Linked DNA regions of Homo sapiens: region 1 is reported to be linked to region 2. The links are microRNA targets in miRTarBase. Many come from high-throughput screens and were not tested one by one. Region 2 holds a microRNA gene; the other region holds the end of a gene's coding sequence.

Region 1 (4,388 bases), not on the chromosome of region 2:
AATGTGGAAAAGCCTTTAGTGATAGGGCAGACCTCATTCGCCACTTCAGCATCCACACTGGAGAGAAACCCTATGAGTGCGTGGAGTGTGGAAAGGCCTTCAACCGCAGCTCACACCTCACGAGGCACCAACAGATTCACACTGGAGAGAAACCCTATGAATGCATCCAGTGTGGGAAAGCCTTTTGCCGGAGCGCAAACCTTATTCGACACTCCATCATTCACACTGGAGAGAAGCCGTATGAATGCAGTGAGTGTGGAAAGGCTTTTAATCGCGGCTCATCCCTCACACATCATCAAAGGATTCATACTGGGAGAAACCCTACCATTGTAACAGATGTGGGAAGACCTTTTATGACTGCACAGACTTCAGTCAACATCCAGGAACTTTTATTAGGGAAAGAGTTTTTGAATATCACCACTGAAGAAAATCTGTGGTGAAAGGGAACATCTTACCATCTGGCCATTCACACTGAAGAGAAACTTCATAAGCATCCTCTCTTTGAGAAAACGTGTAATAGATGATCATTTGTCGTCTAAACAATCAAGTTAGAAATTGAACCAGCCTGGAGTCTTATTCTCCACCTGAGAATTCACCCATGAGAGAGACCCAGTGGTTGCTATGCACTTAGGAAAACTTTCAGCCACATCTTTCTTCTTAGTTTACAGTGAAATATTATCTCAGGGATATTTTTTTTTTTTTTTTGAGACGGAGTCTCGCTCTGTCGCCCAGGCTGGAGTGCAGTGGCGGGATCTCGGCTCACTGCAAGCTCCGCCTCCCGGGTTCACGCCATTCTCCTGCCTCAGCCTCCCAAGTAGCTGGGACTACAGGCACCCGCCACTACGCCTGGCTAATTTTTTGTATTTTTAGTAGAGACGGGGTTTCACCGTTTTAGCCGGGATGGTCTCGATCTCCTGACCTCGTGATCCGCCCGCCTCAGCCTCCCAAAGTGCTGGGATTACAGGCGTGAGCCACCGCGCCCGGCCATCTCAGGGATATTTAAACAAAGGAAGAGGAAATATAGGGAAGAGAAAGAAACCACAGCTTCTTTTAGACTTGTCTGACAAGCCTATGGCAATTTTGTCGTCCCTTTGTTATTTTATGTGGGAGAGGGAAATGTTTCAGAAACGAAAGATCTCATCCCCTTTATTTTTCTGTGTATGCATTCACTGCTGCCCAGTGTCAGAACAGTTATACAAACGAGGGCTTGAAAACATTTTGTGAAAACTTGCTTAGTCCTGCAACGTTCTCCACTCTCGAGGTGCAGAAGCATACATCTTTATAAAAAATATGGAGGCTTGAGTTATGAAACACTTTTATAAGGAGATAAGGATGTACATATGTTTGGACACATTGTCCACTTCAGATGCTTGTTTAAAAAAATGTTTCACCATGTGTCTTTACCCAATACACATACTTTTTCTTGATGTGGATTTACTTTTTTTTTTTTTTTTTAAGTTTTCCTGGGATAGGGATGATAGTGTAATTGTTCATGCCCACAGTAATCCTGGGAATCTTAGTTTTTTCCTATGATTGTGGTTTCTCAGCTTCTTTACCTCTCCTTTGAGTTAGGTCCACCTCAGTTTTCTAAAGGTCAAATTAAGGCCCCCCCAAAAATACAGTATGTAGCTGAATTCCTTTGAAAGATCATGATAAACTCAGAAGAACAAACATAGAAGGAATGTCATTTTTAATCTTTTTAAAGAGTGTGTGAAAATTCACTTTAACTGGAATTTTAACAGGCAAGCCGGCATGCATATATGTAGGGATGTGTGACTTTCACAGTTGTCACCATGGACTTAGGCTTGATTAAAATGCTACACATTTAGAGCGTTTTGTAATTCCTTTTTTATATTTTTAAGACTAGATTTTGAGCCATGTGATAGTTTTACCTCATATTAAATATATTGTACAGAAGTAAAAATAATCATGTATTCACTTTGAACTCCTCAAAGCCTTTTTTATTTATTTACTTATTTACTTACTTGGTTTAGGAGCAGAGGTTTAATAGGCAAAAGAAAGAGAAAAGAGACTAGCTCTCTTCTGAGAAGAGAGGGGTGTCCAAGTGGGACTTCCCTCCTCAGAGCCTTTTTTTTTTTTTTTTTTTTGGAGACAGAGTTTTGCTCTTGTTGCTCAGGCTGGAGTTCAGTGGCACAGTCTTGGCTCACTGCAACCTCTGCCTCCCGAGTTCAAGCGATTCTTCTTCAGCCTCCCAAGTAGCTGGGATTACAGGCATGCGCCACCACGCCCAGCTAATTTTGTATTTTTAATAGAGATGGGGTTTCTGCATGTTGGTCAGGCTGATCTCGAACTCCTGACAGGTGATCCACCTGCCTCGGCCTCCCAAAGTGCTGGGATTACAGGTGTGAGCCACTGCGCCCAGCGCTCACAGCCTTTTAGTGAACACTTGTATAGTTTTCTATTGTAGGCAAAGCCATTTTGTACTGCATTAATTCATGTCATTATTTTGAAGACATCTCTTGGTCCTTTTTTTTTTTTAATTGAGATGGAGTCTCGCTCTGTTGCCCAGGCTGGAGTGCAGTGGTGAGATCTCGGCTCACTGCAGCCGCCTCCACCTTCCGGGTTCAAGTGATTTTCCTGCCTCAGCCTCCCAAGTAGCTGGGACTACAGGTTTGTGCCACCACACCCAGCTAATTTTTGTATTTTTAGTAGAGATGGGGTTTCACCATGTTGGCCAGGATGGTCTTCATCTCTTAACCTTGTGATCTGCCTGGCTCAACCTTCCAAAGTGTTGGGATTACAGGCGTGGCCACTACGCCTGGCCCTCCTTGTCCTTTTTATGTCATGTCTAAGAACTCCTCACCAGGTTTTCTATCGTATTTCCTCCTACAAATTTTATCTTCTACATTGGATCTGATTCATGTTAAGTTAATTTTTGTATTACAGTATGAACTTTAGTTTCTTTTGTTGTTGCCCATGAATTTTTTTAAGCTCCATTTCTTGAAAAGACTATTCTGCCTCTATTGAATTGCTTTTACACCTTAGCAAAAAATTATTTAAGTATATTCATGTTGGTCTATTTCTTGGTTCTCTATGTTATTCCATTGGTCTTCGAGCCTAAACCTATGCCAATACCACTCTATTTTGATTACTATTGCTATCTACTAAATTTTAAAATAGGGTAAACTTATTCCTCACTCTTTATTCTTTTTAAAAATTGATTTGGGGCCAGGCATGGTGGCTCACGCCTGTAATCCCAACACTTTCGGAGGCCAAGGTGGGCAGATTACATGAGGTCAGGAGTTCAAGACCTGCCTGGCCAATATGATGAAAACTCGTCTCTATTTAAAAAATACAAAACCTAGCCAGGCAAGGTTGCAGGCGCCTGTAGTCCCAGCTACTCGGGAGGCTGAGGCAGAAGAATTGTTTGAACCCGGGAGGTGGAAGTTGCAGTGAGCTGAGATGGTGCCACTACACTCCAGCCTGGGTGACAGAGTGAGACCCTGTCTCAAAAAATAAATAAAAAATAAAAATTGATTTGGCTTTCATATCAATTGTTTCCTTTGGCTTTGTATATACATTTTATTGCATGTTTGTCTCTATGAAATATGTTGCTGGGATTTTGATATAAATTGCCTTAAATCTAAAGATCGTTTTGGTGGGAATTGACATCTTGTTGAGTCTTGCAGTTCATGAATATGGTACGTCCCTCTGTTTATTGAGGTCCTCGTTGATTTATTTCATAAGGGTTTTGTAATTTTCAGCTTATAGATTATGGACATATTTTAAAAATCTAGACAGTTTCTTAGAGGGCCATTATATGTTGTATTGAGTTTTAAATTTCAGTTTGCACTTGATACTTGCAATTATAGAGAAATATATAAATTAGAATTTTTATATGTATTCTGTGACTTTGCTGAAGTCAGTAGTTCCAGCAACATTTTTTAATAGCTTTCTTAGGATTTTCTTCATAAATATTAATGTTATTAGCAAACATCAAACATCTTACTTCTACTTTTTTTTTTTTTTTTTGACACTCTTGTTCTGTCACCTAAGCTGGAGTACAGTGGTGCGATCTTGGCTCACTGCAACCTCTGCCTCTCGGGTTCAAGGAATTTTTACCCTCAGCCTCTCGAGTAGCTGGGATTACTAGCACACTCCACTATGCCCAGCTAATATTTGTGTATTTTGTAGAGATGAGGTTTCACCATGTTGCCAGACGGGTCTCAAACTCCTGAGCTCAAGTGAGCCTCCTGCCTCAGCCTCCCAAAGTGCTGGAATTATAGGCATGAGCCACTGCTCCTGGCCCAAACATCTTATTTCACCTACCCAATCTATATTACTTTTATTTCCTTTTCTTGTGTTTATTGCACTAGCTAGAACTTCCAGTGTGATGTTGAATAGAAATGGTGAAAGAGGACATACTT
Region 2 (4,388 bases):
TGTATATCCCACTGTCTTCTCCACATCACCATGAAGTTATTAACCTTCTGTCCGAAATCAAGGTCCTGATTTCCACTGCTGTGCTCCTCCTGCAGTCTTTCCTGTCTCCATAAATGGCAACTCCAAATACTAAATAGGTCAGGCCATAAACTTGCTGGATTTACCATCCAGCTACATCCTGATACACCCAACATAAGTTGAAAATACTGTTTAGGCCGGGTGCGGTGGCTCACGCCTGTAATCCCAGCACTTTGGGAGGCCGAGGCAGGTGGATCAGGCCAGGAGTTTGAGAACAGCCTGGCCAAGATGGTGAAACCCCGTCTCTACTAAAAATACAAAAATTAGCTGGGTGTGGTGGCGCACGCCTGTAATTCCAGCTCTGTAGGTGGCTGAGACATGAGAATCGCTTGAACCTGGGAGGCAGAGGTTGCAGTGAGCCGAGGTCGCTCCACTGCACTGCACCCTGGGCAACACGGTGAGATTCTGTCTCAAAAAATAAAAAAAGAAACATCCTAAGTCGAATCATGGTAAGTTGGGGGCTGCCCCTACCTCTCCCCAGCTGAATCCTAACCGATGCCTCTGCTTCCCCTCAACTTGAAGCAGCCAGAGGAGGAGTTCTGTAAAAATATGTGGCTGATGTGGTTGTGTCCCTCCCATTCCCCAGACCCTCCCTGGGCTTCTTAACCTCATCTCCTCCACCCTCGCTGCCTTCCTGCCACTTTCCCCTCCTGGCTGTTCCTCAGCTGAACCATGCACATGCCCACCCCGGGGCCTTTGCGCTTGCTCTTTCATCTCCCTGCGATGTCCTTCCTGGGAGGTCTCTGTGGCTTCTCCATGTCTCTGCTCAGGGTCATCTCACTCGGAGAGGCCTTCCCTGGTATGGCTGCCCGGCCATACTAGGCTCTGACGCTGCTCTCTTGCTTTCTGGCAGGTATCAGCATTCAGTCTTGTATCACGGGTTTTTTTTTTTTTGGTGGCTAGTTCATCTCTTGCCACCTTACAGTGTAAGCCTCATTAAGGCCAGGGGCTTTGTCTGTCTAGTTCCTGGCACATGAAACAGCATCTAGCCCTGTCATAAGGGCTCTGTCGATATTTTTTCCATGGATGGTTGGCTATGCATCAGGGTAGACAGACACTGAAACCAACCAACAGTCCCAGTGACTGGAGGGGCCCTCCTGGCCTGTTTGAGGCACAGTAGGGATGAAGCAGGTGGCCTGGGGTGCCAGGGCTGATCGTCTCTCCAAGCCTTGGCCGGTGGCCACACAGCAGCCCCCAGCCCCTCTCCCGTCAGCTGCCTGGTGCTTTGCCCACACCAGGGTCTCTGGACACCAGCTCTTCCATCACCAGCCAGCCTGAGGCCTTCTTCTCCAAGCTGCAGGAGTTTCGGGAAACCAACAAGGAGGAGTGTATCTGCAGCCATCCTGAGTGAGCAGGGGCGGGCGAGGGTGGGCGAGGGCGGCTGAGCGGCTCCATCCCCCGGCCTGCTCATCCCCCTCGCCCTCTCAGACCCCAGTTGCCAGGCCTGCGTGAGAGCAGTGGCAGCGGCGTGGAGGAAGACCATGAATGTGAGTGCGGGCCCTCGGCTAGGCCGCTGAGTAGTCCAGCCTCGCGCTGCCCTGGCCTCCCCTGCCCCAGAGCAGTCCCATTTGAGGTTTGGGGCCTGGGGAGGCCCCTGAGATGTTGAGACTCATGGAGGGAGGCCTGCAGTCTGGACAGGGTGGCCAAGCCCTGGTAGGGGTGGAGTGAGCTAAGGCCTGGCCACCGAATTAGGGGCTGCCCTGTGTGGCACCATCCCACCCTCCCCAGCAGTGCCCCTGTGCTGGTGGGACTCCATCCCAGCTCCTGAGGGCCCCAGGAGGATGTCCCTCCCCACCCCTTAGGGCGTGGGCCCCAGGTTCTGGGAGGAAAGGGGTTAGGAGGAAATGGGCCGAAGGGCTTCCCAGAGGGATTGGCAGCTTGTGTGGTTGGGGGCCGCTGAGGGCAGCACGGAGCCTGGGGACCTGGGTTCCTGGCTCAGGGAGAGCTGTGGCTTCTCATGGGCCTCGCAGGCGTGTACTGTTACCGTGTCAACCGGCGCCTGTTCCCGGTGCCTGTGGATCCCGGTACCCCCTGCCGCCTGTGCAGGACACCGCGAGACCAGCAGGGCCCTGGGACCCTGGCGCAGCCAGCGCACGTCAGGTGAGTGACCAGAGTATTGGGACACCTTGGGGGACAGAGCCTGAACCACTGGTTTTAAGAAAAGATGGGCCTGGGCGTGGGCCCCCAACCGCTGGGAGGCTCCTCAGGGGTCCCCCACTGCCCCCCTGCGCAGGGTGAGCATCCCGCTGTCGATCCTGGAGCCCCCGCACCGGTACCACATCCACCGGCGAAAGAGCTTTGACGCCTCTGACACACTGGCCCTGCCCCGGGTGAGCAGCCACGTGGGGCTGGATGGTGATGAGGGCGGGGCTGGCTCAGACTGGCCCAGATCCCCAGGGAGGGTCACAGAGCGAGACTGGGCTCGACAAGGGTGAGCGCCCAAGTCTCTGGAGCACAGCCTGGGCCTCTTCCATCACCCACACCTGTACCTAAGGGAGGTAGGACCCCCGCTCCACGTACCCCGGTGCTTCCAGGGTGATCTGCCTGCAGGCTGGCATGACATGAATGGGTCCTGTTTATTGCGCTTTTGTGTACTGCAGGCACAGTCCTTAGGGGGCTTATCTCATGGAGCCCCCACAGCAGCCAGGAGTGTAGGCACTGCTGTACCCCCACCCTGCAGGTGGGGAGACCGAAGCAGAGGGGGAGGCGCCTTGGTGGAGGAGCTGGGATTCGAACCTAGGTCTCTGTGCTGCTGCTGCTGCTTTTTTTTTTTTTTTTTTTTTTTGAGACCGAGTTTTGTTCTTACTGCCCAGGCTGGAGTGCATTGGCATGGTCTCAGCTCACTGCAGCCTCCACTGTAGTCCCAGCTACTTGGGAGGCTGAGGTGGGAGGATCGCTTGAACCTGGGAGGCAGAGGCTGCAGTGAGCTGAGATCTCGCCACTGCACTGCAGCCTGGGTGACAGAGTGAGACTCCATCTCAAAAAAAAAAAAAATGTCCTTTCCTGTGTCTCCAGGTCGGGATGGGGTGCCAGTGGCAACTCCCCCTGACTCCTAAATTGAGAGTAGGGCAGCTGGGGTCAGAGGAGGAGAAGGATGCAGAGGAAAGTCAGTTTGCTGGTCCGTAAAATGGACATAACAGCGCCATCCTCAGGGATGTTGGTGGTGAGGTGGGGCTGTTGAGTGAAGCAATCCATGCAGGTGCTTGGAGAGCCTACAGCAGGAAGTACCCTGTGAATGTCACTGTCACCGTCCTATCCTCCTCCCATTTCAGCTCTCAGGGCCCCAGGGATGGCTGGATCTGCCAGGATAAGAAAGGGGAGAGCTGGGGTAGTCTTGTGGGTAGACACAGGCCCTGCCTTGGTGGGGGCCTCCTTCCTAATGGGGGGCACAGTTCCTCCCTGATGGGGGTGTGCCCAGTCAGCGGGGAGCTTGTCCCAGGTCAGGCACTTTTAACTCCTTGCCTTCCACAGCACTGCCTGCTGGGCTGGGACATTTTTCCTCCGAAGTCTGAGAAAAGCTCAGCCCCCAGGAACCTGGACCTCTGGTCCTCTGTCTCCGCTGAGGCCCAGCACCAGAAGCTGTCCGGCACCAGCAGCCCTTTTCACCCGGTACGGTCCAGATCGCATCCTAGCCTGGGGTGCCCCCTAGAGGGACAGAGACCTCGCAGCAGGCCTGGGGACTGCAGAGCCTCCTGGGGGGTAGGATTGAGGTGGGGAGGATGGAGCCTGGGAGTGTCTCTCTGCAGGGTCCAGCCCTCCAGCCCTGACCCTAGCCATCCCTCGGAACTCCTCTGCTCCCTGCCGCCTGCCCTGCTCCACCCAGGAAGGCCACCCTGACTGCAAGATCCAGGAGGGAATGTGGCTGGAACTGGGGATGACCTGTCCCTTTCAAGTGGCCCCCCTGAGACTTCCCTATTCCCCATCCAGGCCTCACCAATGCAGATGCTGCCCCCGACCCCGACCTGGTCAGTGCCCCAGGTCCCTCGGCCCCACGTCCCACGGCAGAAGCCCTGAGGACTGACTCCTGGGGGAGAACAGCATTCCCGCCGCCTCCAGCCTCTCCCCTCTGGCAGGCGCACCCAGGAGATGGAATCCCCTGCCCGCCCAGCTCAGGCCCAGCTGTCCTAGGTTGGGCAGGTGGGTGGACCCAAGCTTGTCTGCTGCCTGAGTTCCAGAGAGGGAGGACCCTGGGGTGGAGGGTGAGGGATTCTGTGGAAGTTTGTAAATAAAGCTCAGTGCTCTGCAGCTCAAGTCCCACGTGTGCTGGTTCCATCCTGCTAATGCACTTGAGGCCCAGAAGGCACTCTGGC

The links. Region 2 holds the annotated microRNA hsa-miR-6729-5p (UGGGCGAGGGCGGCUGAGCGGC, at 1,447-1,468, shown strand). A microRNA usually pairs through its seed, bases 2 to 8, with sites in the 3' UTR of a target mRNA and lowers its output. Matches are read on the target gene's strand: a 7mer-m8 pairs with bases 2 to 8, a 7mer-A1 pairs with bases 2 to 7 and ends in A, and an 8mer does both.
Region 1: the mRNA of ZNF543 is a reported target of hsa-miR-6729-5p. Seed matches in the 3' UTR shown: 7mer-A1 at 725-731.

The regions. Positions count from the first base shown.
Region 1 is chr19:57,328,826-57,333,213 of GRCh38, forward strand. ZNF543 (zinc finger protein 543) reads left to right here. Exons shown (of 4, transcript NM_213598.4): 4 at 1-1,945. The coding sequence ends at 440. Among named protein-coding and RNA genes, the nearest start is that of ZNF543, 11 kb to the left of the region's middle.
Region 2 is chr1:12,027,717-12,032,104 of GRCh38, forward strand. MIR6729 (microRNA 6729) reads left to right here and starts at 1,442; the gene lies at 1,442-1,506. It overlaps MIIP (migration and invasion inhibitory protein), which reads left to right. Exons shown (of 10, transcript NM_021933.4): 5 at 1,317-1,425; 6 at 1,507-1,565; 7 at 2,049-2,178; 8 at 2,312-2,408; 9 at 3,550-3,687; 10 at 4,006-4,329. The coding sequence ends at 4,092.